2 linked regions of the Homo sapiens genome follow. The protein of the gene in region 2 interacts with the protein of the main gene of each other region in a biochemical or structural test. Each region holds a gene or a part of one and is shown on either strand. Other genes may lie near its edges. The genes, in order: MAEA and MKLN1.

Evidence for each region.
Region 1: the proteins of MKLN1 (region 2) and MAEA form a complex in vitro, tested with the Homo sapiens proteins (one study listed by BioGRID).

What each region holds. Positions count from the first base shown.
Region 1 is NC_000004.12:1,308,445-1,323,848, reverse strand, and holds part of MAEA (E3 ubiquitin-protein transferase MAEA), read right to left. Parts: intron 14,407-15,404; exon of another isoform or gene 14,203-14,406; coding exon of another isoform or gene 14,137-14,202; intron 14,063-14,136; exon of another isoform or gene 13,853-14,062; intron 11,871-13,852; coding exon 11,688-11,870; intron 8,453-11,687; coding exon 8,249-8,452; intron 1,469-8,248; coding exon 1,346-1,468; intron 1-1,345.
Region 2 is NC_000007.14:131,438,507-131,453,910, reverse strand, and holds part of MKLN1 (muskelin), read right to left. Parts: intron 10,431-15,404; coding exon 10,209-10,430; intron 8,138-10,208; coding exon 8,008-8,137; intron 1-8,007. UniProt on the Homo sapiens protein: Component of the CTLH E3 ubiquitin-protein ligase complex that selectively accepts ubiquitin from UBE2H and mediates ubiquitination and subsequent proteasomal degradation of the transcription factor HBP1.

The sequences.
Region 1 (15,404 bases), on a different chromosome or scaffold from region 2:
CTGTCCCCACAGCAGCTTCAGACAGGTCGTGTGCTCGTGGCAAGCCTCCAACACCCTCCAGCAACACTGTCCGGCAGGTAATTAGGGCTTGCAGGAATATCCTGGCAGCACCAAGAACCTATCTTCCCTCTGACATCCACAGGAAACAGCCCTGGCAGAGTTCCCACTGTGAGGTGTGTGCCGGCTCTCTGGGAGGGAGTGTGGGGCTGGCACTGTGTAGTGGGGCCGCAGGTTACATACCAATTCTGGCTTTCCTTTTAGGGTTTCCATACCAAGGTCCAAACTCTCTTTAGGGGAGCTACTAGCCGCTCTACTTTTTCGTCCCGTCTTTGCTTCGTGCTTGTTTTGGCGGCCCTGAGTGGCAGTGTGTCACTCCTGGCTGGTAACTGCGTGCACCCTGCCAAACTCAGCCAGGGTGAGGTTAAAGCAGCGCTCAGTTTAGAAGACAGAAAAGTTTTGCTAATGGAGGCAGAAGTGTTAACATAAGTTAAAACATTTCTGCAAGCCCCTAGGGTGACAATGCCTTTTAATAAGCAGGTTTAAATTTTGTCCTTTAGGAGTCCATTTCTTAAGCTTCTTTTGGTCTCTACAAAAGTCGGTACTCGGCCGGGCACGGTGGCTCACGCCTGTAATCCCAGCACTTTGGGAGGTTGAGGCAGGTGGATCACAAGGTCAGGAGATCAAGACCATCCTGGCCAACGTGGTGAAATCCCATGTCTACTAAAAATACAAAAATTAGCCGGGCATGGTGGCGCATGCCTATAATCCCAGCTACTCAGGAGGCCAAGGCAAGAGAATCGCTTGAACACCGGAGGCAAGTGAGCCAAGATCGTGCCACTGCACTCCACCCTGGCGACAAAGCGAGACTCCGTCTCAAAAAAAAAAAAAAAAAAAAAAAAAAAAAAGTGGGTATTCATTAACAATATCACAGCCCAGAGCTCTGCAGCCTCGCAGATGGAGAATGACTTCCCAACCAGCTTTTCTGTGTCTATGACTGAGCACAGGGAGCCCATGGAGTACCCCCATGGAGCAGGACTGACCTGTCTCCAGGCTCTAAGCCCAGCAGCCCCAACACTCTGTGTGCACATGGTCAGCCTCCTGTAACCCACTCCTTCTGAGCCTCATGCCAGCTGTACACAAACTGTAATGCCAAATGAGGTGCACTTTTCCAGATTTTAGCCTAAAAGTGTAACACAGCCACCAAAAAAACTCCCAAACCCAACCCCCACCTTACAAACCAAAACCAAACTACTGTGAACCACCAGGCAAGGGGGTGCTGGCTCCAGGGCAGGTGGCGCAGCCTCGGCCCCGACCCACTCCCACCCCAACCTGGGAGTCCGTGCACCTTCATCTTCCGGAGCCGGGACTTGTTGTCATGGCACCAGGCCAGGCAGGTGGCCGTCTCACGCCTCTCCAGGGACTCCTCCACCTCTTTGGCCGTCAGGAACATCTCAATATTCACTAGGTCCTTAGAGGAAGGAAGCAGCACCTGATCAGAATGTGCTGGCTCAAGGCCCCCATGCCACCCTCCCACACCCCAGCCTCCATGAGGCAGGCCCAGCACCGGCCACCACTCGAGATGCATCTCCAGTCCACACTGTGGGTCTGCACTCGTGGACTACTCAGGGCCGCTCTGAGATCCTAGGAACAGAACAGCCCCCAAGGACCAAAAGGTCGGACGCTCACGTAGACAGCAGCCATAGCCGGGCAAGGGAGCCAGGCTGGCCCCACCTGTCCATGGAGAGGAGCTGCTGAGACACACATGCAGGCAGGGCCAGGCCACATGCCAGGCGGCCCTGTCTCCACTCCCCACAGCCCCCCAGCACATCTACAGGCCCTCCCTGGGCAGCCCCCTCATTTCAAAATCAACAGTAAGCAAATAATAACATGCTAAATAATACATAAACACATTATGGCTAATATCGCGGTAGTTACAACCAATGATTTATATGAAAGCAAAGAAAAAAAAAAAAAACAACAAAAAAAACAGAGTAACCCAGGCTTAGCATCAAGTCTCCGCTAGTGGCCGGGCACAGGGGGTGGGTGCTCAGTGCCTAGCAGTGGAACCCATGGTCTCTGGCAGGGGCAGGACAGCAGCTGGTACGGGACTCCACCAGGCACGGCAAGGCTTGGGGCAAGCGCTCAGGTGGTCCTCAGCAGCAATGACTCCCGACCTTCCCCAGTGGGACCAAGGACGGCACCTCCGCCTGCACATAGCCCAGGACCCAACGGCCCAGGATGAGGCCACAGTTCACCACTTGGGTCCCACAGCCCCACGTCTGGACCACCGGCCTCACAGATGCGCTGTTTTCTTTGATGATTACTCTTTTCTGAAACCCCTCATAACGTTGTTTTCTTGCACCTTTTCTTTCATGATTTCTTGTTTCTGAAACCCCTTCATAGCATTTTCTTGCATGTTTGCTTTGATGATTTCTCTTTTCTGAAACCCCTCACAGTGTTGTTTCCTTGCATCTTTTCTTTAACGGTTTCTCGTTTCTGAAACCCCTTCATAGCGTTTTCTTGCATGTTTGCTTTGATGATATCTTTTTTAAAGCCCCTTCATAGCGTTTTCTTGCACGTTTGCTTTGATGATTTCTTTTCTGAAGCCCCTTCATAGCGTTTTCTTGCACATTTGCTTTGATGATTTCTTTTCTGAAGCCCCTTCATAGCGTTTTCTTGCATGTTGATTATTCTTTTCTGAAGCCCCTTCAAAGCATTTTCTTGCATGTGTGCTTTTGTTTGTTTTTTTGAGACGGAGTCTCGCTCTGCCGCCCAGGCTGGAGTGCAGTGGCGCAATCTCCACTCACTGCAAGCTCCGCCTCCTGGGTTCACACCATTCTCCTGCCTTGGCCTCCCGGGTAGCTGGGACTACAGGCGCCTGCCACCACGCCCGGCTAAATTTTTGTATTTTTAGTAGAGACAGGGTTTCACCGTGTTAGCCAGGATGGTCTCGATCTCCTGAACTCGTGATCTGCCCACCTTGGCCTCCCAGAGTGCTGGGATTACAGGCGTGAGCCACCGTGCCCGGCCTCTTGCATGTTTGCTTTGATGATTTCTTTTCTGAAGCCCCTTCATAGCGTTTTCTTGCATGTTCGCTTTGATGATTTCTTTTCTGAAGCCCCTTCATAGCGTCTTCTTGCATGTTCATGTTGATGATTTCTTTTCTGAAACCCCTTCATAGTGTCTTCTTGCACGTTTGCTTTGATTATTTCTTTTCTGATGCCCCTCCATAGCGTTTTCTTGCACGTTTGCTTTGATTTCTTTTCTGAAGCCCCTTCATAGCATTTTCTTGCAGGTTTGCTTTGATGATTTCTTTTCTGAAGCCCCTTCATAGCGTTTTCTTGCATGTTTGCTTTGATGATTTCTTTTCTGAAGCCCCTTCATAGCGTTTTCTTGCATATTTGCTTTGATAATTTCTTTCTAAAGCCCCTTCACAGCGTTTTCCTGCATGTTGATGATTCTTTTCTGAAGCCCCTTCATAGCATTTTCTTGCATGTTTGCTTTGATGATTTCTTTTCTGAAGCCCCTTCATAGCATTTTCTTGCACGTTTGCTTTGATTTCTTTTCTGAAGCCCCGTCATAGAGTTTTCTTGCACGTTTGCTTTGATTTCTTTTCTGAAGCCCCTTCATAGTGTTTTCTTGCACGTTTGTTCTGATGATTTCTGAAGCCCCTTCATAGTGTTTTCTTGCATGTTTGCTTTGATGATTCTTTTCTGAAGCCCCTTCATAGCGTTTTCTTGCATGTTTGCTTTGATGATTTCTTTTCTGAAGCCCCTTCATAGCGTTTCCTTGCATGTTTGCTTTGATGATTTCTTTTCTGGAGCCCCTTCATAGCGTTTTCTTGCATGTTTGCTTTGATGATTCTTTTCTGAAGCCCCTTCATAGCGTTTTCTTGAATGTTTGCTTTGATGATTCTTTTCTGAAGCCCCTTCATAGCGTTTTCTTGCATGTTTGCTTTGATGATTCTTTTCTGGAGCCCCTTCATAGTGTTTTCTTGCATGTTTGCTTTGATGATTTCTTTTCTGAAGCCCCTTCAGGGCAGGCGAATGTTGGGTCTCCCACAAAGTCTTACTTTGTTTTGCAACTTGAAAAACCATTTTTTTTTTTTTGAGACAGGGTCTCGCTCTCTTGTCCAGACTGGATGGAATACAGTGGTGAGATCATGGCTCACTGTTGCCTCAAATTCCTGGGCTCAAGTGATGCTCCCACCCTGGTCTCCCAAAGGCCTTGTTTTGTAGTTTTGCTCTAAATTTCAGGAGGTGGCTCCTGGTCTATATCCTGCCTCATGTCCCGTCAACACAGCCTCGGGGTCTGAACCCAGTTGGATCTCTCTTACTGAGGGTTTCTCCAATGTCCGGGTCTCCGGTTGTGAGAGTCACATGAAAGATGTGAGGCCAGCTGGCAGCAGGCTCGTACGTCAACTGAAACTAGAAACCATCTAAGTGAACTGGTTTTCTGTCTCACACGAAATGCTCATGCTGACTTTTGTTTGTTTTGAGACAGGGTGTTGTCCTGTTGCCCAGGCTGGAGTGCAGTGGTGCAATCTTGGCTCACTGCAGCCTCCACCTCCTGGGCTCAAGTGATCCTCCCACTGCAGCCTCCAGAGTAGCTGGGACCCCAGGCACCCACCAACACTCCCAGCTAATTTGAAAAAAAATTTGTAGAGAAGGGTTCTCACTTTGCTGCCCAGGCTGGTCTCAAACTCCTGGGCTCAACAGATCCGCTCGCCTCAGCCTCCCAGAGTGCTAGGATTACGGGTTGAGAGCCCTGCGTCCAGCCTAAGGCAGCACAGGCAGGCGCACAGCACCAGCCACACTGAGGACTCTGTTCTGCCCCTCCTGGGCAGCCTTCCCTCGGCAGCAGGCTTCCTGTCCTGTTCCTGTGTGGCCTTCCCTGGGCAGCAGCTTCCTGTCCTGTTCCTGGGTGGCCTTCCCTTGGCAGCAGCTTCCTGTCCTGTATTGTCTGGGACCTTGCTCCAATCCAGAGCATGAGGTTATTTTCCTAAGTTTGTCACGTCTCCAATTTTGGTGCACAGGAATTTTGGTGCACAGGTAGGAAACTGGGGTCCCACGTGGGAATTCCATGGCGCCCCCTACAGGAAGTCCAGGTCTGACCAGCGCAGCCGGGGTTTACATTTCCACAACCTGGCAGCTCCCCCTCGGCCACAGCAGCACCTTCCCCAGGGCTTCCTAGTGCCATGGTCACCTGTGGTCAAAAGCGATTCCTCAGCTCAACGCCCTCCGGAGCATCTCAGCAGAAAGAACCCCTCCCCCGCAACCCAGTCCTCATGGGCTCCACACGCCCGCCTTCTTCCACACAGCAGCTCCAGGCCCTCTTTTGGACAGACATGCTCAGGGCACCCCAACACCTTGAGTGTAGCCCGTCTCACCCTGCTGAGGCCTACTCCAACTGGCCTTAGAATCATCAGCACTCCCATATCCACCCTGCTCTACGCACTTCTGTGGAACGCGTGGCCTGTGCCCACCACAGGACCCCCTTCTTTCACTTCACGTCTCTCTCCCCCAACACAGCGCACATTCCCTGGGGCCAGGGGCACCCACAGCTCATGCTTCAGCAGCCACCGCCAGGTTGCTTGGTCACACCCCATGGGTCCCAAGGACAGTGTGCTGGGCGTTTAGGAGAGGATGGCTAGGTCATCTATGAACACACGGGGGGCCGCCCCAGGCAGCCAGGACATGTGGGCAGCACGGAGCGAGGGCCTGTGCATTGGGGGAAGCCGGGCACACGGGGCCAGGGAGGCGGGTGGGTGGGAAAGGCATGTGGGACAGGGCACCGGAGCGGACATGTGCTGGCCCACTGTCCGTCACATGAGCCTGGGCAGGTGCAGGTGAGAATGCCCTTCCCTGACACCCAGGTGGAGGAAAAATGGCACCAGATGGGGGCCACAGCAGCCCAGTGGGCAGCACGGCAGAGGCATCACAGACGACCCCGTCCAGCGATGAGAATGTTGGGTGCACACTGGAGTGGCTGCGAGTCATGACCTGGAGACTTCGGAAACTCAACAAGACTGCAGGGCACCCAGGGGCACCAGCCCCGGTCACCGCAGAGGATCAGTGCACTTTGCCATCTGGCAGATCAACTCATGGCACAGCTGTGACACATCACATTCACGCTTGTGAACCGAGACGCCATACCCCAGCGGTGCCGAGAGCAACAGTGCTGTGCAGGTCTGGGCAGATGAGGGCCTCCAGGACACGAGGACTCACTCGCTCACCCTGCCCACTGGGCAGCTGCTCGCCACTCCCCTCCTGGAGGGCAGGACGGACACCACACACACACACAAGCAGGGAGGCTGTGCAGCAGTGGGGAGAAGGCATGGGTGGGAGGGTGCCGCTCCACCCAGGGCAGCATCTGAGAGAAGGTGAACGAGGTGCGGGACAAATGCCGAGGACAAGAGCCAGCAAGAGGGTGGGGCCAGGTGGGTCTGCGGGTGAGTCCGGAGTGTGGGGCCTGCAGATGAGTCCGGAGTGTGGGGCCTGCAGATGAGTCCAGAGTGTGGGGCCTGCGGGTGAGTCTGGAGTGTGGGGCCGGGTGGGCCTGCAGGTGAGTCTGGAGTGTGGGGGCTGGGGTGGGCCTGCGGGTGAGTCTGGAGTGTGGGGGCTGGGGTGAGCCTGCGGGTGAGTCTGGAGTGTGGGGGCTGGGGTGGGCCTGCAGGTGAGTCTGGAGTGTGGGGGCTGGGGTGGGCCTGCGGGTGAGTCTGGAGTGTGGGACCGGGTGGGCCTGCAGGTGAGTGTGGAGTGTGGGGGCCGGGGTGGGCCTGGGGGTGAGTCTGGAGTGTGGGACCGGGTGGGCCTGCAGGTGAGTCTGGAGTGTGGGGGCCGGGGTGGGCCTGGGGGTGAGTCTAGAGTGTGGGGCCGTGGTGGGCCTGCAGGTGAGTCTGGAGTGTGGGGCCGGGTGGGCCTGGGGGTGAGTCTGGAGTGCCGCAAGGCTGGGGAGCTGGGCAGGAGCGTGACAGGAGTGTGGGGGAGGCTGCAAGCCAGCAGGGCGTGCAGATGGCTGCATGGGGGCGTGAGTGTGGCCCCATGGGCACCCGAGGCCTTGGACTGCACAATGTGAGGCCGCCTCCAAGGCTGGGAAGGGAGCCTTGTGCTGGGGTTGAATTCAGCCAGGGCTGAGGCCCATGATGCCCCAGGTGGGAGCCACACACATGTGGGTGGGATTTAAGCCGTGGAAAGAGAGAAGACCCCTGGTTAGACAGAAGCAGGGAGGAGGTGGGCTGAGGAGCCGTGGCAGGGAGCAGCATGGGAGGGAGGCCTGTGGGGCCAGGCGCATGGCTGGGCATGGGGAGGCTGGGCCCGGGACAGGGCCATGGGGCACAATCCTCTCGCACAAGTCCTGCCTGAGAGGTTCTCAAGTGTTGTCATCTCAGTCAAATGGAACACGGACGCCACCTTAACCCGAGTCAGGTGAGGCTGTGCTCCCACAGCAGGATCTGGACAGGGGCAAGGGCGACGGGCCCAAGTGCTGGTCTGGGAGGCTCCAACTGCCATGGGCCCCCACAGCAGTGGACAACTGCCCGATGGCAGAGAGGCCGCCCCAGCTAACCTGGCCCAAAGGTGCCAGAGGGCAGCACCGCCCAGCGTCTGCTCAGCTGTAGCCACAGAGGGCAAGGGTGCCACGTGTTTCTACAGGGTGCCACAGAAAACACGGAAAACGCACCCCGCCTGAGATAAAGGCAAAGCTCTCACGAGGAAGCAATGGAGCATGTGTCAGCGCAAAACCCGGGGTACAGGTATCGGGCGGGAAAATCCTAAGCAGGATGTGTGCAGACACCACAGGGAAATGAGAAGAACCTGGAGAGCCGCTTAGACACTGACTTCCTGCCTTCAGAAGGCTAAGTCCCAGGTGCGTTTCCACAAAGGGTCAGGGCCTCTCAGCTGGGGAGGAGGCCCTCACCACAGCGCAGACACACACACGGGGTGGGGGAGAAACACGCACATTGGGGGGGGGGGGGCACACACACGGGAAGGGGACACACGCACACAGGGGTGGGGACATGCACATGGGGGGAGGGGGACACGCACACGGGGAGGGGGACACACACACACACTGGAGGGGGGACACACGCACACGGGGGTGGGGGGAGGGGAACACAAGCATACGGGGGTGGGGGGAGGGGAACACAAGCATGTAGGGACACAGGCATGCCGGGGGACATGCCACAGGGCGGCTGGCCATAGGCCTGGGGCCAGCTGGGGCGCTGTGCCTGCGTCTGGCGGGCACCCACCTCGATGCCGCTCTGGCGCGCCAGCTTGACAGCCGTGTTGTAGTAGCCGCAACGCAGCAGGTGCTCCACCATCATGCGATCCATGCGCTTCCTCTTCCACACGCTGGCCGCCGCGGGCTGGTCGCTGCTATGCTCTTTGAGGTGCTCGATCCGGCGCTTGCACAGCTTGGCGCTCTCGTCCTCGGCCTGGATGGATTCCACCGCCTGAGCCACACACAACAGAGGCACGTTCAGGACAGGGATGCCCCGCAGCCCTGCACCAAGGGAGGCCAGGCTGCCCCAATCCACAACACTCACAAGGAGAAAAGCAGGGATTACGGGACAGAAAAAAAACCGTGCTCTACCGAGTCCGCTAGGCAGGTGTGCCTGGCCCAAGAGCTGCAGACGGAGGCAGTGAAAATCCACCACCCTGGATCTGCAGCTTCTCTCTGCTATTTCTGGCTTTATATTAATATACCCTGAAGCCATGTTGCCAGATGCATACAATTTCAAATTTGCTATGCCTTTCTGGTTAAACTGTTTATCATTATAAGGTGACTTTAAAAAAATCTTTTGCAATACTTTTTTTCTTAAAGTCAATTTTGTTAAAAATGAATCGGGCTAGATAGAAACGTTCCAGGCCTGTGCTGCCCAACACAGCTGCCACCAGCCCACGTGGCTGCCACACACTTAAGGGCAGTGGTGCAACTGAGGAACTGAATTCTTCGCTAAAAATTTGACAGCACACACGGCGACTGACTACTGGACAGATCCAGGATCCGGGCTGGCTTCTTTCAGCACATTCTACCAATTTTGGCTTCCAACTGCTGTGCAGAAATCAGCTGTCCGGCTGTCTGTTGCCCCTTTGGAAGTCATCTTTTGCCCTCAGGAGCTTTTCAAATATTTCTTTGTCTCTGTTTTCTTCAGTTCCACCACGGGAAAATCCCATGTCGGTTTATTTTCACTTACTCTGTGTCGGATTCTGACCTGGTGGTACTCATCAGTTCTGAAACCTTGGTCACTCTCCCCGCACCATCTCTGTCCCCACCCACTGGTGGGCTCTGGTGAAACATGCCACAGGTTTCTGCTCTATTCCATGCTTTACTCTCGCAGCCACTTTGATTTTTCAGTCTCTGTGCTCCATTCTCGATCACCCTCCAGTTCACTAATTCTGTCTTTAGCTTTGTCTGTTAACTGTTAAACTGTTATAGGCAAATGTTGAGTTTTTCATTTTTGGTTATTATATTTCCCATTTCTTGAAATTTTAGTCCCTTTTAAATTCTGAATTTTTTTTTTTTTTTGGAGACAGAGTCTCTGTGCAGGCTGAAGTGCAGTGGTGCGATCTCAGCTCACTGCAACCTCCAGCTCCTGGGTTCAAGTGATTCTCCTGCCTCAGCCTCCCGAGTAGCTGGGACCACAGGCGTACACCATGCCCGGCTAATTTTTTTGTATTTTTAATAGAGACGGGGTTTCGCCATGTTGGCCAGGCTGGTCTTGAATTCCTGACCTCAGGTGATCCGCCTGCCTTGGCCTCCCAAAGTGCTGGGATTGCAGGCGTGAGCCACTGTGCCTGCCCAATCACTTTTTTAAGACAGTGTCTCACTCTGTTGCCCAGTCTGGAGTACAGTGACACAATCTCTGCTCACTACAACCTCGACCTCCTGGGCTCAAGCGATTCTCCTGCCTCAGCCTCCCAATTAGCTGAGACTACAGGTGTGTGTCACCACGCCTGGCTATTTTTTGTAGAGATGGGGTTTTGCCATGTTGCCCAGGCTGATCTCAAACTCCTGGGCTCAAGCAATCTACCTGCCTCGCCCTTCCAAAGTGAGCCACAGTGTCCAGCCTTAAATCACTTTTTATACTGTCTGTTCCCTGCAGAGACTTTCAAACTTTTTTTTGAGATAGGGTCTCGCTGTCGCCCAGCTAGAGTGCAGTGGCATGATCGTGGCTCACTGCAGCCTTGACCTCCTGGGCTCAAGCAATCCTTCTGCCTCAGCCTCCTGAGTATCTGCTGGGGCTACAGGAGGGCACCAGTACGCTTGGCTATTTTTAATGTTTTGTGGAGATGGGGTCTCCCTGTGCTGCCCAGGCTGGTCTCAAACTCCTGCGCTCAAGTGATTCTGCTGCCTCAGCTTTCCACAGTGCTTTCCAGGTGTGAGCCACCGCGCCCAGCCTGCTTCTGTTCTTTAAGCACAGTAAGGTGTGGCACCTGGCAGCCCCTGCACCTGCAGTCCGTGCAGCCCTCTGTCTACTGCCTGCTGGGTCTCCAGTCCATCGTGGTGTCTTGAGACAGGGTCTCACTGTTGCCCAGGCTGTCTCTGTGCTGGACGTTGTACTTGAAAACTGAGAATCTAAGAATCATCTTATGCCCATATTGAAGGTATCCTCCCCAAGAAAGAATCTGAATTGACTCTGCCCGGAGCTGGAAGGCACCACCAGCCGGGACCACCTCACCGGAGTGAAGGCTGAGGGTCTCCAATCATCCCAGTCCTCTGAACGTAGGCTGCAATGCTGTGTCAACGCCAGTCCACTTCTGGTACACCCCACGCTGAGCTGTAGTACCGTGGGGTCCCACCTTCTCTCCACTGGGCCCCACTTTCCAAGGCTTGGGTCATCGGTCCTCACCTCCATCTGGCCTGGCCAACACTCCAGGGGACAACAGCAGTCTCTTGCTGCTCACCTCTGACCCCTGCCCTCCGGTTCTGGCCTGGCGATTCCTTTCGGTTTCATGGTTTATTGGGTATTTTCAGTGCGACGTTTCAAGATATCTCATCCCACTTTCTGGGTGTCTTCAGTGGGCCAGATTAGTCCCAAGGCCCCTGTCCACCAATCCCAGTGACAAGGAACTCCACATGCTCCTTGGAGGTGAAATTCCATCTAAAAATAATCGATCAGGCCGCGTGCAGTGGCTTACACCTGTAATTTCAGCTTTGGGAGGCCAAGGCAGGTGAATCACCTGAGGTCAGGAGTTCGAGACCAGCCTGGCTAACATGGTGAAACCCTGTCTCTACTAACAATACAAAAATTAGACGGGCGTGGTGGTGGGCGCCTGTAGTCCCAGCTACTCGTGAGGCTGAGGCAGGAGAATCGCCTGAACCCCGGAGGTGGAGGCTGCAGTGAGCTGAGATCGCACCACTGAACTCCAGCCTGAATGACACAGTGGGACTCTGTCTCAAAAAAAAAAAAAAAAAAAAAAAATCAATCAACCTGCTATACATCCTGGTCTCCCTGTGGCCTGGACTCTGGACACTCCTGGAGCAAGACAACACGGTCCCTACAGGAACAGGAAGCTGGCCTGCTCAGCCGACAGTGGCCCCAGAAGGCAGACAGCAGGGAAGGGGGCCCCCAACCGCACCTCCCGCGTTCCCATCATTGCAGCTTGCCTGTCTTAGGACTCATTTTCGAGACAAAAGGGGTGTCCATGCCCCAGACTGAAGAGGGACCGCCAGGCGGGACCAACCTTCCTCTTGAGGACGCTGAGCTTCTCCACCACGCCGTCCAGCAGGCTGACCACGGAGTCCACGGCGGGGCAGCCGCTCAACGTCTTCTCCAGCTCGGCCACCACCATGGTGACGTGGCTGGTCTCCCGGTCAATGTTCTTCTGAGCGGCGCGAAAGCGTTTGTTCAGCGTCTCGTAGGGCACCTGGAGAGGAAGGAGGATGGTGAGGGATCTGCTCCCCTGGTGTGAGCCCCACCAGCCCCACACCCAGGACACACCAGGTCTCCTCATGGCACTTGTAGAGGCAGAAGTCTCAGAAGGTTCATGGTCTCAAAAGTATCTACTCTAAACCTCAACCAAGACCCACAAAAGCCCTGCTGAACGGAGAGCCACTCCACATCCCTGGATGAGAAGCAACCCCAATTTTTGCCAAAAACATTGTACGTGTATGTTGACAAAATAATCCCAAAGTTCATCCAGAATAACGAACAGTTAAAGAAATTTCCAAACAGGAGAGGAGTGACCGGGGTGTGAGGCTATCAGACGGTAAAACACAGGCCTGGCCGGTGATCAGCCAGGCTGCTGCGGCTGCAGGCGCCACCACACGAGGCCAGGCCGGGCAGGGACAAGGGTGCATGGGGCGTGGGCTCCACACGGGCTGGGGTTGGGCACAGCAAGCCTCACACACGCACGGGAAGCCACAAGTGCACGACCCACACCTCTCCTGTGTGACAGCGTTTGCCTTCCCCAGTCGTAAGAACCATCCATTCCCTGTGGAAATAAGCCAATCAAGGAGAATCTTAAAGTCGTTGTTAGTTTTCTGTCCCTCTGAGAGAAGCGCTGCTGAGTTCTTCTCCGCCCGTTTCCTGTGCTCTACGGTTTGAAAGCGGCACGACAGAATCACGCCCCAGCGCTCCCCGGCCTCCGTGGCCGGGCTCCCGCAGGAAACACCACCTGCGGTCCTGGCTGCACTGGTGGCCGGCAGCTCACCACACAGCGCATCAGCAACACGGCCGTGCTGCCGCCCAAGAGCAGTGGGCCCAACTCTGCCGTCGCAGCTGTGCCAGAACAAGCGCTCCACCTCGCCTCCTCTCCAGCCGTGCCCAACCATGGGAGGACAGACTCTCGGGTACCGCCTGCTCCCCCGGCCCTGGGCACGCCTCGACCTCGTGTCAGCCACTGTGCTTAGCCGTGAGGCCACGTGAGGAAGGCAGGGCTGCAGTGAGGGAGACCTGGACGCAGCTCAGCGCTTGGGCTTCCCAGAAGTAGGGACAGCCAGGGCAACAGAGACAGGACTGGCCTCAGCCGAGGAAGGAGCCACACAGCAGGGCTCTTCCCTAGACTCACTTTCCCCCCGAAAGCAGGGGCAGGAGGCGGGTGGCAAGGCCGGCCCTGAGCCCGTTCCCCCGGCTGCCACTCCCCACTCGGCCTGGCCCCAGCTGCCCTCCACTCAGACATCCCCCAGCGCCGACGTGGACCCACCGCGGGTGACAGGGTGCACACGCTCTCGTCCACACCAGACAGCCACACAGGAGGCTTTGCAAATGGCAGCCAGCATCACCGTCTGCTACCGAGCAGGACTCACCCTTGCTGGTGAGCAAATGAGTCAGGATGTTGAGAAGGAGGGCAGGGAAGCTATCAAGACACAACACGCTTAACCAACTCACAAAGCAGTGACAACAGGAGACGGACTCGAAGCCAGGCACCGTGTGTGGCATCTGGAACCAAGCTTGCTGGTGCCACGCAGCCTGGGGTCCCATCATCCACACTGCCTGCCTTCAAGATTTCTCCCAAGGATTCGGCACTGCTTAGGAAAGACGGGAAAGATTCTTTTCGTCTGCTCTACATCTAGTGGATGGGAAGTCACAGCAGACAGCACTTCAGCTCTCCATAAATACCTGACCAGTGCAAGCGAGCTCAACGAGACCCACTGGGGAAGGCCCCCCCGAGGCCCTGACACCACAGCCCGACACCGGCCTGCAGGACTCTCCCACTGGAGACCCTATCTGAGTGTGTCCTGCCACGAGGTGGAATTTCTAAAGGACGCAAGGCATATACTCAGTCTTTGCTCTGCCTGTGCAGGCGCCTCACAAGAGCAGGACAGAAAGTCTTCGCCATTAGACCATTAGACAAAGCGGCACAACCACCCTCGCTCGCGCGGAGGAACCCACACAGCATCCGCACACCAGCACATTCCAGACCGCCACCAGAAAAGGAAAGGCCTCTCTGGACGTCCCTTAGCTGCATTCAAGTTCTACGCGGGAACGGGGCCTTTCTGGACTTTCCAACCCCTGCCGGGCCGTCCGCCTCACCGCGGTGCTGACGCTGCTCAGGCACAGGGCAGAGCTCCGGGCAGCTGGTGTGCTGCAGACAGGAACCCTTTGCTCCCAGTGCAAGGGAAAAGGCCCTGCCCAGAACGCGCCACGGTTACGCAGAACGCAGGCATGAAGGAGGCCGGGGAGGGGCTCACCGGGGCCACGGTGTCTTCACAACTGGAAGACCCCACCTCCCTGCCAGTGGCTCTCAGGGTCCACATCCAGCCGCTTACTCCTCAGGCCTCCCACGCCTCTGCGCACGCTCCTCCCACCTCCCTGCCTCTGCTCCTCCTCCAGCGCTGGCCCGGGGCTATCCAATCTGAGTTCAGGGGATGAGCGCAGCACCCCCTCTCCCTCCAGCAGGGCAGCTGCTGACCCAGACAGCAGCTCCTCCCCACATCCACGCCCCCCAGAGGAGCCAGGCCAGCCCCGGAAAGCACCGCCTCCTCTTCCGGGGGACTCAGCACGTGACTCCGGGCCCTAAAAGCTCCCCTCCACTGGCCTGGGCTGGCTGGTTAGCAAGAGCCCCTTCACAGGCTCCTTAAAGGGCATTTGGTGACCGAGTGAGTGGAATTTCAGAAATGCTAAAGACTCTAACTCGAGCCAAATTATCACTCAAGAATGAGGACAAACTGAAGTTACTTTCAGATACGCAAGGGCTGAAAGCTGAGCACACACAAACCTTCCTGGCAGAAAAACTACTCAGAAATATTGCTTAGTGATCAAACACAATAAATCCGTGGACAAAGACAATGTAAGACACAAGAAACAGCAATGCAGAGAGGGGCCAGCAGATTCTAAGACACAAGAAACAGCACTGCAGAGATGAGCCCGCAGAAGATACAGCTCGCCCAAATGAGGACAGGCAACCTCACAGACCGTATCATAGGAAGAACAGTGAAAAGGGGCAAAGCATTAAAAATAGATTCCTAATAGCACAGGCAACAGAAAGAGACAAATGGGACTACATCAAACTTAAAAACTGCAGAGCAGGAAAAACCAACAGAGTAAAAAATGGGAAAAAATAGCTGCAACCCAGGGATCTGCATATGGAGCTACTATCCAGAATGCACTTTTAAAAACGCCTACAACTCCACAACCAAAGGAAATATCCAATTTTAAAATGGGTGAAGGACTTAGACACTTGTACAGAGAAGATAAACCAATGGCCAAGCGGCACATGACAAGATGCTCCACACGACCAACCACTGCTCAGGAGACACAAGTGCAGACGTGAGGCATCACCTCGTGCCCGTTAGGACGGCGATCACTCAACACCGAAAGCTATGCCACGGCAGGAAGCGGAGCAGCGGGACACGCGTGCAGTGCCAGGGAACGTGCCCGGCGCAGCGTGTAGAGCAGCGAGGCAATTCCTCAGAACGTTAGGCACAAGGCTCCTGAGTCCCCAGTAGGCCACGAGAAC
Region 2 (15,404 bases):
TATTTTTTCTTCGAAGTATCTATTCATATAATTTGTCATTGTTCTACTACAGGATTATCCACTTTTATTGGTTTATAAGAGCCTTTTGTTCATTGTAGGAAATAAGCTTTGTCTTAATTGCTAGTTTGTCATTATTTGATATTTTAACAATTTTTTATATTTTTTAATTTTGCAAAAATCAAACATTCCTTTTCTTTATGATTTCTGGGTTTGTGGCATGTTTAGAAGGGTCTTCTCTTAATCCTAGATTATTAAAAATAATTGGAATTATAATTTTATTTCTTAAGTATGAAACTTAAGTTCACCTAGAATTTTCTTTGATGTACAAAAGTCAAGTAGGGATCCAGATTTTCCCATTTATTCATATTTATTTATTTACTTATTTAAAGAGAAAGAGTCTTGCCGTTGCCCAGGCTGGAGTCAGATTTTCCTTTTTTTTAAAATACTGCCAAGTCTTAAGCAATGTCTCCATGTCATATACTGTTTAATCTATTCTTTCTCTCTGACTGGAAATGCCAACTTTACCATATACTAAATTCTCATATGTATTTGGGGACATTTTTATACTATCTGCTCTATTTCATCCCATTAGTCTGTACTTTGGCAAATTGTAGCTTTATAAATATCTGGTAGTGCCAGTACTACTTCATTAACTTTCAAAATTGTTGTTAGTGTTCTTGCATGTTTGTTTTTACATGTGAACTTTAATTCTCATTTACTATCAAGTAACCTAAATATCATATCTAAAAATATAAAATACTCTTGTAAGCTTGTAACTAGCAAAAACACCCCTGGGAGGGTAGAAGGGGGAAATCAGGGAAAGTTATTATTACCAATAATTTTGAGAGGCAAAAAGTAGATACTCTGTTTGAATAATGACACATCAAATACAAAACATACTAAACTGACAGCAATGAAGCCTAATTATGTTGAAAATAAGCGCTACCATTTTCTAGTCCAGTAACTAATCTATGTTAATGACAGCAAATCATCAGCTTCAAAGTCTTCTCTGTGTTGCCAGTTTGGCTTTACTCATTTAATTGGTAAAAGTATAAAAGGATCGGCCGGGTGCAGTGGCTCACGCCTGTAATCCCAGCACTTTGGGAGGCCGAGGCGGGCGGATCACAAGGTCAAGAGATCAAGACCATCCTGGCCAACATGATGAAACCCCGTCTCTATTAAAAGTACAAAAATTAGCTGGGCGTAGTGGCGCATGCCTGTAATCCCAGCTATTCGGGAGGCTGAGGCAGGAGAATCGCTTGAACCCGGGAGGCAGAGGTTGCAGTGAGCCGGGATTGTGCCACTGCACTCCAGCCTGGCGACAGGGCGGGACTCCATCTCAAAAAAAAAAAAAAAAAAAAAAAAAGTATAAAAGGATCAGAAACATAAAGAGTTATGACCATACTAATTTTTTAAAATGTCAGTAAGCACAATAAGCACATTCCCAGGGCCAAAATGAAAATCAGTATGATTTTGCTTTTAAGGTTTTCATAAAAATTTATTTATAGATAAATCAAGTTCTGTAGATGTAAACTCACATAGCCCTCATATCTTAGTTTCACAGCCTGATAACAGCAGAAGGGAATGAAATTTAATTTTCAAAATTTTGGAGCTAGATGAGGTCTTATGATCAACTGGTCCAATCTCCTCATTTTCAGATGAATAATCAGGTTCAGAGAAGTTATATAATTTTTCTAGAATTACAGAGGGATGAGTGGCAGACCCAGACAAAGAGAGACCAAGTCTTCTGATTCTCAATTTGCTATTCTTTCAATGGTACCAATCTGCTATAATGGTTAGAACAGGATGGAATAAACAATGGCAGATGTGGGAAAACAGAGTGGACACAATTTAAAAATCAAAACAAGTAAATACATAACTACTAAAGAACAAGCATCAGGTTGTAAGACCTCAGTATTACCAATACTTGACTTAGCATTTGGCAAATGAAGAAGGTTCAATATATGCTTCTTCCTTGAATGAATACGAACAGGAGAAAGCACTCTTACTATAGTAGACTGAGTTTCTATAGAAAACTACAAAACTCTGGTGGTGTGACAGACCATCTTCTACACATAAGTTTCAATTAGTGTTAAATACAGAGCTTACATATGGGGAATCTGCTAAACCCCTTGTGTTCACAGTCTTACTTGCCAAAAGTTTCTCAGAAATAAACTCAAGTTTTAGATATGCTGAATTTTGATGTAATTATGTATGTATTAGACACAATGCTAATAAATCCCTTAAAGCAGCTGCCAATCCATTGATTTAAATTATAATTTTCTTCTGAGGAGAGCATAAAATTGTTACACTGTAGTTTAAAAATAAGCATTAAAGTTTCTTCAGATCTTCAGATGTTAAATCTAAGATGGTACATTCAGATAATTATAAAGAGCAACAACTTAAGATTTTATAGTATCTGACAATACAGAATTATATAAACAGCAGTAATTTTACTATTAGCTATACCATCTCGGTGATCTCAATAGTTCAAACAAATTTACTCTATGAGCTCAAACAATCCCATTTGATACTCACATTGTAAATATAATTTTAATCAAATAAGCCACATTACTGAATCACAGATAAACACAGTAATTATATGTTAAGTCCATCTCAAATTACAGTAATTAACTGTAGTAAAAAATCTTTAGAACAACAGTTAACAAACAACAGAATGATTAATAAGCTACAGAGCATCTACATAATGGATAAAATTGGTGTTTTCTAAGAATATTTTAAAAATGTGGGAATTTAAATAGTATTCTGCCTTCTTAAAAGTACTTTTCACTGCTTACAATAAAAATCTAGTAAGAGAGAAAAAAATGTACTTTTTAAAAGTGAGGTAAAATAATTCTATGGGAGGACAATATAATATACCATGGTTCTGATGTGAGGTTTTCTGAACAGTCTAATTTAGTTCAGTAAAAGACTTTTAGGAGATCTAGAGTACTGAAACCACTGAATGCTCTTTAAGAAATCATGAACAAGTCTGTGTATTTCAGCTGATCTTTGTATAGGTTTTGAAAAGCACAGTCAAGATTTTACAGCCAGATGAATACCTAGAATTGCGTTAACAATGATGGCTAGAGCCACATGTTTTTATATTTCTAACCTGGGCTTAAGGCATTAGAGAATTTTGGGCGACAACGATCTACAAGCTAAGATCTGAGAGGTAAGCAGTACAAGTTAGCTAGATTTTGGAGGGGAGAGGAAAGTGATTCAGGTAGGAGGAATAGCATGGGCAACTCTCAAAGGCAAGTTAAAACACACTATCTATAAAGATTTAATATTCGGTGGTCGTGAAACAGAGTTGGTGGCAAGAAGAGTACAGACACCAAGACTAGGACTGGAGAACTAAAATGGGGCACATCATAAAAGAGTCTGTGAATTATGTTAAGTTTAGACTTAATCCTGAGGGCAGGGAGAAACCATTAAAAGATTTAAAGTGAGGAAGAAAACCCACTAGGTTTGTATTTTTAAAAATATGTTCTTTTCTTCACTAGCACTAATCTAAAGGTAAGGCTGTCACTTTATTTTTCCTCTCTGTGTACAACCATAACTCCATGAAGATAGGGCCCTCATTCACAGTTGTACTCCTAGTGCGTAGCTTATTGTCTGGCACCTAGTAGGTGACCAAAAAATATCTGCTCTATAAATGTTAAGGCATATGGTTCTATTCTTTACTGGTAACACAGAATAGCTGTATCCTGCTTGCAGTGTGGAGAATGGGTTGCAGGGAGGGGTACATAGGGAGAGGAAGTCTAGAGACAGAGGCCAAATAGGTGATGTTAGCCCAAACTAGTTCATAGTGAAGCAGCAATGGGAATAGAGAGAAGATGAGGCAAAATTGGCATGACTTGATGTTAACTGGCTAGATTAGTGAACCTGAGGGTAGCAGTATTAACATCCTCTTGTGAAAATTAAGGCACCCAACAGTAACACCAGTCGAAACTAGAGGGTTAACCCATCTCTACTCCTAGGGTAGCCATGGACAGAGACGCTATTTTCCTTAAAATCTAATTTGGGTCATTTACAAATGTGGAAGCAAAAGCTGAGACATTAGGTAACTTGCTTAAGGTTAACTAAGGACTGAAATAGACTCCGGAGAGCTAGAACAGTGGTTCTCAATCCCAGCCGCATATTAGAATCCTCTAGGAGAGAGAAAGTTGGGGGAGGAGTAAAAGGGACATGGGAAAAAGAATGGGAAGGAGGGAAAAGGAAGAAAGTGAGAGAGGCAGAGATGAGGGGAAAAAAAAACAGAAAAAAAGAGAATAATTTCCATTTCACTCTAATGTGCTAACAGAGTCACTGAGGTTCCTCAATTCCAAGTATAACTGCAACAGTTTTAGGTGGGAAATTTTTCCAAGTAATTCTAACCAGATGCTCAACCCTGCCATAAAAATCCTCAGTAAACAAGCCTTTGAACAATGCAACTCACAGGAACATTGTCAAAATTAACCACTTGGAAAATATACACCTAGACAAAGAAGTGGTATTGTTAAAACTTAGATCAAGACACTGATATTAAACCTTTGAATAATCTATTTTATTCAGAAAAAAAATCCAAACTCCTTGCATTTGTAACAAGGCACTAAATACTCTGACTCTTATCTCCGTAGCTCTAACCTAGTTTCATACCAACTTTTCCAATCCTCAATACGTACCAGTCCCACTATTTCTGAACATCCCAGGTTCCTTCCTGCTTTGGGAACTCTGTACTTGTTCTTCTCTCAGTTCTTCACATGGTTCTTCCTAATTCTCTACTTTTCATCTTAAATCTTAAAGATTACCTCCTCAAAGATGGTTTCCCAACCTACTCTGTTTAAATGAGACTTCCCTTGTTATTCATTATCACGGCATCCAGTGTATTTTATTCACAGTACTTAGAACACAACTGCAGGTCTCTCTCCACTAGAATGTGAGTCCTCTAAGGGAAAGGATCTTATCCTCCAGGTCCATAGATGAATCCCAAGTGCCTAAAATAATCTTGGGCCTACAGAAGACAATGAACTAAGTGGGGAGGGAAGGAGGAAGGGAGAGGGACAAACTTAGATGCTAGTAGATGGTCAACAAATATTATTAATGAATTTATTTGCATTGTGGGAAAATTCAATTGTGTAAACCAATTACACACTGAACACACACAGTAAAAAATGGTGATTTTGATTTTAGAAAAATTGATTATAGCAGTAATCAAACAATGAATCCATTTGTCTTTTCTAATAACATCTCCAGTTCACATTAATAAAACCACAATAATGGAAAAAATCCCACAATTTAATGTAAATTTTAAAATAGAATACAAACTTGTATCAACTTTTATACAATAAATAAGTTTTAAAAAGACTAGACAGAAATATATCAAAATTTTAACAAGTTATCTCTGGACAGTTTGACATATTTTCTTTTTTGCATCTTATTTTTCAAATTCTCTACAATGAGCATATTTTTACTTTTATGACCACAACAAAATTAAATAAAAAGAATAATTGCCACACTGCTCTAAAGCTAGCCATAACCATGATTGAAGAATAATTGTCGATACTGTACATTACTACATAATTTTAACTCATTAAAAAATTGTTTTGAATGACAGTCATTAAAGCCTACTTGTCATGGTGAATTTTTATTTTACTAGTTCTCTGTCACTATCACGCATTGCCACTTTTTTTTCTTTTTTGAGACAGAGTCTCGCTCTGTCGCCCAGGGTGGAGTGCAGTGGCGTGATATCGGCTCACTGCAAGCTCCACCTCCCGGGTTCACGCCATTCTCCTGCCTCAGCCTCCCGAGTAGCTGGGACTACAGGCGCCCGCCACCACGCCCAGCTAATTTTTTGTATTTTTAGTATAGATGGGGTTTCACCACGTTAGCCAGGATGGTCTCGATCTCCTGACCTCGTGATCCACCTGTCTTGGCCTCCCAAACTGCTGGGATTACAGGTGTAAGCCACCTCACGTGGCCGCCACTTTTTTCTTTTAATCTTGGGCAGTAGTTTAGCATGGCAGAAACACCTTCCTTGCACTCAAACTTCTAAATCCCAGCTCTGTCATTACGTAGTTGTGTAACTGTTTTCATCTTGTACATTAGAATAATACCACCAATTAAAGATATTCTGGTATATGGTAGGGTCTAAATAAAGAGTAGTAATTATTATCCATGGGAATACATTACCTACTAGCTAGATTATAAGCACTTTGAGAGACTGTGATTGCCTTGTATCCACTGTGTCCGTAGTCTAGCACTGAGTCAGCATGCCATAATTTTCAACATATTGTCATATCAATTACTATCTTCACTACCTTTTTCAGGGAGACCCATCTTAGGATTGTAGAAGGAGTATTACCTCTCTCCTGCTATTTTATTTTTATTTTATAGAGATGAGGGCTAACTATGCTGCCCAGGCTAGTCTCAAACTCCTGGGCTCAAGCAGTCCTCTCACCTTAGCCTCCCAAAGTGCTGGGATTAAAGACATGAGCCACTGCGCCTGACCCTCCTAGTTATTTTAATGGTAAGTTAGAATAACTCTTAAAAGCCAGAGAAAGTCAAATATTAAATCATATAGCTCTACACTCTCCTATGGCAACAGTAAATAAATGAGTAAATAAGACAATTTTAGATAGGGTAAATAATGTTATTACCTATTCAGGTCCATATTTCTAAATCACATGCTAAGCTGCTATTTTAGACATTACCTACTAATTTCCTGTTGTAATAGACGAAGATGTTTACTACACTTACACTATCTTCCCACTATATTTCATCCCAATTTTTGGTTAAACTGGCTGTAGTTCTGCATTATGATTAGGGAAATACTGCTTACTGTAAAGCCAAGAAATTTACTGTGATAATGTCTCCTTTTTTATAAAAAGTTTCGCTTTTCCTGTTGTGTCCCTATCCTTCGTTTTTTACATTAGATGCTATTTATACTCATCAACAGATTTTTCTTCCAAATGCTTAACATATCTATTGAGTCTACTTTTATCTGGAAACCTCCTTTTTGTAGAGACAGGGTCTTGCTTTGTTGCTCAGGCTGGTCCTAAACTCCTAGATTCAAGCAATCCTCCCATGTCCGTCTCTGGACTAGCTGGAATTACAGGCATATGCGACTGTGCCTTGCCTATCTTTTGTTTTTTTGTTTGTTTGTTTTAAAACAAGTTTTTCTTCTTAAATGTGAACAAATATTTTAATTTAAAAATATTTTTGTTGTTTTTGTTTTAAAGGAAGCTTGTATTAATCAATAAAATATCCAGAAACAATGTCTGTGAAACAAGTGCTTTTATCCACATTTGGCAAAAGAGCCAATAATAAAAACACCAATCTATAAGCAACAGCTAAAAAGAAAAGCAGCTGATTTAATTTCTCACTCTATTGTTCAAATTAGCATTTTAAACCATTGCACCTTAATTAAAGCCACTCTTTTAGGTACAATAATCACAGGCAAAGCAACTACTATGTAGGGTAACTATAAATGATCAAAACAGGACACTTTTGAAAATGAATGGAGCACTATTAATAATTATGCCAGGGCAATATGCATAATCTAAGCAAACCAGCCATTCCACTACTAATAACCTCCTAGATGCTGAGCTTTTAAACTTACAAGGTGTTACCAATCCCATGAAGTTCCCCCCTTAAGACACACACCCTACTATGCTAGTGCCTAATATAAAGATCACTACAGTGAAAATAGAAGATGAAAAAAATTAGCAAACACAGAATAAAAAGTTTTTAAGATATTGATTCTTCCTACCCCGCCCCCCAACAAGCACACACACAATTCATTTAGAAATTCACATATTTTCTGCTTGAAGGAAATAGTAATTCCCATATTTAAAAATAGATAGAACTGAATAAGCTGGTAGAATTTTCTTTCTCTTACTTGGAATTACTCAATTAAAGAAATAAAGAAAGGGTGAAAAATGATTAGAAAGAAAAGAGAATGAACTGCAGTTTTCTACCTAAAGTAGTTAAGACATGAGAGAAGAAATCACTCAATGCCCTTACCCATCCCAGAGTCTTTCTTGGTGCCATCTGATATTATGTCTACATGATCAGAGTCCACATCATAACTAAAGAAATCATTCAAATAGGTCTTTGATCGCTGGCCACCAAATACATATAAGCAACGATTTTTCTGAAAAAGAAGAAAAAAAAAAAGAAAGGAGTAACTTATCACTTCCATGAAGAACTCAGAATGATCCTTTAAAAACTTAAACCTCTACAAAAGTAATTTTATAACAGATCCCAATGGAGTACTATGCTGGAATAAAAGGGAAAGAGGAAGCTCTCTACATATTGCTAAAAGGGGATCTCTAGGACATCCTGTTAAAGAAGAAAAGCAAGGTGCAGAATAATATATACAGGTTCCTTCTTCCTTTGTGTAGGAATGGAGAAGAAGGAATATCTGTGCATCAGACAAAAAGAGAGGGAGAGAGGGAAAGAGAATGTGAGAGAGGGGAAAAGTGAGAGAGAGAGCACGCAAGCGAGAGCGAGAATAGAGATTGCTTCTTTTTTTGAAAAACAAAGGAAGGATAAACCAAAACCTAATAAAAGACAGTTACCTATAGTGGCAGGAACAGAGCAGGAAGACCTCTCCAAAAATAATACCTTGATGTATGGTTTTGACTTTAGAACAATGTATATGCTTTTATTTAATTAGAAGACAAAATTAACTCAAAAAAAAAATCTAAAATTTGGGCAAAAAAAATCCAACAAATAAACCTATCTGTATATAAAGATATACTCAGACACAGAAATAGTATTTCTAATGATTTTAATACATACTTTTTGACTACCCATCCCTAGAAGTCTAAATCCTAAACAGAAAAATAATCAGAAAGCAACGTTAAACAGCACTCAGTGATTCTGTTGTTAGTTTTCTTTACTGTGAAAGCTATTATAGACAGACAAAGCAACTAATGTTATGAAGCAGGATTTTAACCTTAAAAGACACAAAAATAGGCCAGGCATGGTGGCTCACACCTGTAGTCCTAGCATTTGGGCAGGCCAAGGTGAGAGGATTGCTTGAGACAGCCTGGGCAACACAGCAAGGCCCTGTCTCCTACTTCCACTTCCACTTCCACTTCTACTACTACTACTACTACTACTACTACTACTACTACTACTACTACTACTACTACTACTTCTTCTACTACTACTACTACTACTACTACTACTACTACTACTACTCAAAACCCAGGTGTGGTGGTACACACCTGTAGTTTTAGCTACTTGGGGGGCTAAGGTGAGAGGATCATTTGAGCCCTGACATTCAAGGCTGTAGTGAGCTACGATCTGCGCTCCAGTCGGGGTAAAAAGAAAAGATATAAAGTTACAAAATAGAAGACATTAAGATAAAAAATATTTTATTTGAATCAGACATATCAGTATGAATTCACAATTTAATTTTTCTCTTACAAAAAAAGATACATAAATATGTTGTGGGGGGTGCTCCTACTAGCCAAAGAGAAAAATTTGAGCATCAAGAAAGTGGCCAGGTACAGTGGCTCATGCCTGTAATCCCAACACCGCAGAAGGCAGAGGCGGGTGGATCACCTGAGGTCAGGAGTTCAAGACCAGCCTGGCCAACATGGTGAAACCCTGTCTTTACTAAATACAAAAAATTAGCCGGGCGTGGTGGTGCATGCCTGTAATCCCAGCTACTTGGGAGGCTGGGACTACAGGCACAGGTCACCACGCCAGGCTAATTTTTGTATTTTTACTGGGGATGGGGTTTCGCCATGTTGGCCAGGCTCGTCTCAAACTTCTGGAATCAAGTGATCCACTGCTCCTGACCATTGCTGATACATTTAAATTCTAATTCTATAAAATCAAATCTTAAATTCTTTGTACTTAATGGAGAATAGCAGAAGGGAAAATAAGAACAGAGTAAGAAATTGTCCTTCTAATTACTAAGAGACGTAAGTGGAAAGGCATAAGAAAGGAACATAGCTACAAAATCTACATAAGCAGTGAAATTAGTCATAAGATTGCCCAGGTTGGTAGCCAGGTAGTAACTATTTAGGAATTACCAGGTTGATGGGAAGAGTCTCATAATTAGCAAACAGTTCACTGTTAAAGAAGTTTTGTCTTTCTCTGTCATTGCTACACTAATCTCTTCCTAAAGAATTAGATTTCACCACTTCTTTTCCTATCTAGATATACATGACAAAATAACATTTACGCAATGTACGGAATGTTCTTACTGAGTGGAATAACATGCAGTGTCCTATTCGAGACTGGATGTCCTCAGGCCCAGCATTACAGGAGTCCTCTCGAAGAAGTTTCCAGGTTTGACATTGACAGTTGAAAGCAAACAAGCCACTGAATTGTGGTTCACTGGCTCTGCTGTCATCTACGCTGCCATTACAAGTCAAAATTCTACCACCAAAAGTGTAGATCATATGTTTTTCTGAGTCCATACACATCTATCAGAACAAGGCAACAGATTGAATAGTTTTAGTTTGTTCCTGTCATATGTGCTAAAACAAAACCAACATGTACAGTTTTACATTCTCAAAAAAACCCTAAACTTTGTCCCTAATGACACTAAATACCACCCCTGATTATCATATGCAAGTTTCTAAATAATTTTTCAAGTTGTCATTTTTGTCAGTGAGGGTAAAAACATGTTGGAATAAAGAGCTTTCTGCTTTCTTGAAATTGCATAATTTTTATCAAAATCAACCAATGATACATGAGGCGTTGATTTATATGTAAGAGTGAATACTTATATTCTGGGTGAATAGTGATCATACCCTCCTTATAAAAATTCCCTTCTTTCATTCTAGGCAAGCATCCTATTAATATTACTACCATTTACTAAGCGATCAGATATGCAAATAAGAGTGGTGAAGCTAAATTCACCTCTCTGCATTTATTTTTATAAAACCCTTCAGATTATGTTACAAAACAGTAAAACAAACAAACAAAAGGACATTTACAACAATCAAGTCTCCAGACTGACTTCTACAATGTGAAGAACTCTGCCTACTTTTAACATAGCACTATTTAATTTTCTTTGAATTAAGCTATACACTTCATGTTTAAAAGTCAAGCTTTATTCTTCCATTCTTTCAACTCAAGATTATAACTTTTCATAAAAATGTGTGAGAAAACAGCCATTTGTCACGAGACAATAAGAATCAAATTCTGTTTCAAATAACACATAAATCCAAGTTGGGAATTAGCTGTTGAACGTAAGTGGCATTTACATAAAGAATAAATTGTGTACACAAAACATCTATGTTTTGCTAAAATAAAACCCAACCATTTGATGTTCAATTCTCCTACCAGATTACTTCTGCTATTTATGTATTTTTTTAAACAAAAGGCTATTTTCATAATTTGTTTTTTTTTCCTAGACAGAATTTCACTCTTGTTGCCCAGGCTAGAGTGCAACAGCATGAGCTTGGCTCACCACAACCTCTGCCTCCCAGGTTCAAGCAATTCTCCTGCCTCAGCCTCCCGGGTAGCTGGGATTACCAGCATATGCCACCACGCCAGGATAATTTTGTATTTTTAGTAGAGATGGTGTTACTCCATGTTGGTCAGGCTGGTCTTGAACTCTCGACCTCAGGTGATCCGCCTGCCTCGGCCTCCCAAAGTGCTGGGATTACAGGCATGAGCCACCGTGCCTGGCTATTTTCATAATTTTAAATGTTGTTTTAAAAAACTGTAGTTATTATTAAAAAGATTCTAACATCTCCTAATTTTTATCTACCACTAAAAAGATCTACCTCATTAGCCATTTCCCAGGTTTCTCAAAGACTTCCATAAATTAAGATGAAAATCTATTCCCCAAGGGTGAAATCTTGGTAAACATGGTTGAAAAACAAAGATGTCTGGAAGTATTCCTATTTTTTAAAATGATCATACAGTTAAAATCAGCACACTGCTGAAAACAACTCAGTTTGGCCCCATCCACTGCCTCCGTTGAGGGCTCCACTGGAGCTGGGTCACATTTCCGTTTCTGAAGTACTTCAGACTCAATCACTCCAAATATCTGGGAACTATGCTGAAAATCTTTAGGGACTCACATTAAATGAGTCTATTTCCATTTTTTATTAACTCACAGATTCATACTAATGGCCAATCTTTGTTACCAACCCCCTACCTTTCTACTTCGTATGGCTACAAAGAGTTTCTTTCTTTTTGAGAATATTCAAGCTTAATTTTGATGTGGTTTATTCTCATTTGTTTGCAGGGCTGAAGTATAAACATCTTTATCTTGGTAGTTCTTCCTAGCATACCAGTTTAAACCAAGAAACCTTTTAATATTCGATTTCCACGCTTTTGATTTGTTTTGTCATTTTTACTCTCCGAAAAAATTTCTGAAAAGCTAGTAAACTTATTAAACTCTGTGTGATAATGTCTTTTCCATCAAAGACTTAAAAAAATCTTTAAAGCCAAAAGTTTAAAGACTATTCATTTATTATGTCAGGAGTTAGATATTTAATTTTTAAAATCAAAATAGTGGATAACCACTTATTTTCCTGGGAAAAATTATTTTTTGAACCTGAAAATGACTTTATTTTACTCATCACAGGAATACAAGATTGGTAAGGGTTTGGCTGGGTTCAAAATAATCTTCTCCTCACAAAATTTGAAGATATTGCTATAAAGGCTTCTAAGTATCCAATGTTGTCCAACCTACCACCCTCCCTTCTACAAACCTCCAAAAATGCCTCATGACCCAGTGAGAATATCAATGAGCTGAGATCTTCAATTCTTCAACTGAAGTTTTTCCTGCTACTTCTTGGCTAGCTCACTTTCCATTTTCTAGTAATTTCCACAAAAACTGATTATACTTGAAGGACAGTTTGGCTAGATATAAAATTCTTGGCTCATACTGTCTTTTCTTGAATGTCTTCTAGATGTTGCTCTATTATCTCTTGGCACTGAAAGTAGATGTAGAGAAATCTGATACCAGTCTCATTTTAGTTCTCTTATAGGTGACTTGATCATTTTGTCTACTTGCTATAAAATGATCTCTTATCTTTTATAGTCAGTGTTATTAATATATGTCTTAGAGTTAAGTATTTGGGTCAACTTTTTCTGAATATAGTATGCCCATTTGACATGCGGAGTAAAATCTTTCTTCAGGAAAATGTTCCTGAATTCAATTGATAAATATTTGTTTTTTCCATTGTTTTGGCTTTCTTCTTTAAAGTCTCCAGTTATATATATATATGTTGGCTCTCCTCTGCCTACCTTCCCTGGTTAATCATTTTTACCTCTTTGTTTTATCTTATTCCTATGCTATATGATCATTACCTATTCTTCTTTACGCTCTTTGTAGATAAGTCTTCATTTCTGAAAGGGGTAATGTACTGGGATATAACTTTCATTTATTGTTATTTTTCTTTTTATTGTTTTTCTTTAGAATGTCTCTCTAAAGCTTTGTTATTTATTGCTTTTTAGTTTTTCATATGTAATTGAGTTGAATTTCCCTGGACCAGATAACTTCACAGAGGATTTCTATAGAAGGTGGATGTTCTCGCTCAAGAACTCCTTCCTCTGTTGCTACTGAATTGAATGGCTCCTTCAAAATATGGCACTTCCGGTGAAGCCATACCTTCTCTAATTCTATGACTCTCATCTGGCTTACAGGGCTGATCTCAAGCTTTGAGCTCCCCAGGTTTCTTACTGGCCATTGCAAAAGGAGCCATCATTCCCACTGTGTTTCCTTCACTTTTACAAAATAATGCTTTCTGACACATATCACCTCTGGATATTTCTGGGTACTTTACACATGTTAATTCACTGATTCTTCTAGTGGCTGCCCTGGGTGCAATTTGTGCCCTGTCCCTGACACTTCTCACTGTGACATACAACTGCTAGGCTCCCTTTGCTTTCCCAGGTCTCCCTATTATACTGTTGTGGGCTTCAACAAAAGTTCTGAGTATTTTAGTTGTTTCTGGCTAAACTTACAAGGCATTGGGAGTTATAGGTTTACTCTAGCTCTTGGTTTTGCTGAGAGAGAGAGACTGTGTGTGTGTGTGTGTGTGTGTGTGTGTGTGTGTGTGTGTGTGTGTGTGTGTTTAAATCTTTTTGCTTGATTACCATTATTCCTGGAAAACCACACAAAGCAACATCAAGGAAAGCTTGAGAACTAAACCGCCACTATGTTCTTAAGAAATCCAGATGTCTTTAAATTTTATTTTTTAAATATGTTAAAATTAAAAATGGCAAATAGCTTTTAAGCATGTTTGTATCGTATAGCTTTCTCATATTTTTATCAAATTTGAACATTGTGTTAAATCCTAAATTGTCATGAACACCACAAGCTATTTTTGGAGTGTCATAAACACTACAAGTGTAAGTTCTAACTTATAGCTTTATTTGTATGAAATAGAATAGCAAATGCAGGATTATACAGATTACTTGCTCACTATTACAGGGATAGTTGTTGGCTGAATTAGTACTGAAATCCTTGTTTCTTCACCCCCAGTGTTCTGCTGTACCATCTAACCAGTTGAAAACCATGCATTATTTAACAGCACCCAGCTTTCAAGAAACATCCTATTTTATAAAAGTCAAGAGAAACAAAGGCCACACACAAGAACTCTCTATGTGCTACTCCTAAGCTATTCTTTTTTCAACCTGTAAAAAAAAAAAGACATCAGCATCTTTTGTAAAAGAAATACGTAACCATTTGGGAACAAGAGAATAAATTGTTCCCTAACAATATTATCTGCTGATGTTTTTAAAAGATCAGAACCAGCCTAACTTTTCTTGGCATGCTTATTTTCCACGTGAAGAACATTGAGGGTGTCAGCAGGGATGTGCATAGCTCTGTGGAGCTCAGTTAAATAGAGCCAACAGAAGTTCCAAATTTAAGCTGGGGAGTATTTCCAAGAATACTAGTTTTGATTTTCTACCTACCACTTAACTTCACAGGCATAACTCACTCTTCCTCTCCTTACCATTCTCCTATAACAATTATATGTTAATAGAAATATGGCAATAGGATAGTTTAAAAGCAAATAATTAACAAAAATCTATAAAGACACAATAAATAAAGACCCTGGGTTCTATGTCCTAGATAAGATTTTAGGTCTCACTTAAGTTTTGTCATAATTCTAGCACCACCTCCCATTTCCCAAATACTAGATAATTTATGTTCATCAATACAGAGTTATAGATTTTTGAAGTCTTTTTCTCCTCAATACATCAAAAAAAACTTTGGACATGGGTTGAGCCAGGTAAAAACTTGCTTATGGAATTCAAAATGGTTACTGTCTTTTTTGACCTACATTGAATTTGTATGGAATAAGTATTCAAAGACAGGTAACAATGATAATGACAATGATGGGGCTAATGAGAGCTACATGTATATTAATATTAAAATGGCTTACAATGAGGCTATGTTCAGTCTTCTAGTCTACAACATTATTGTA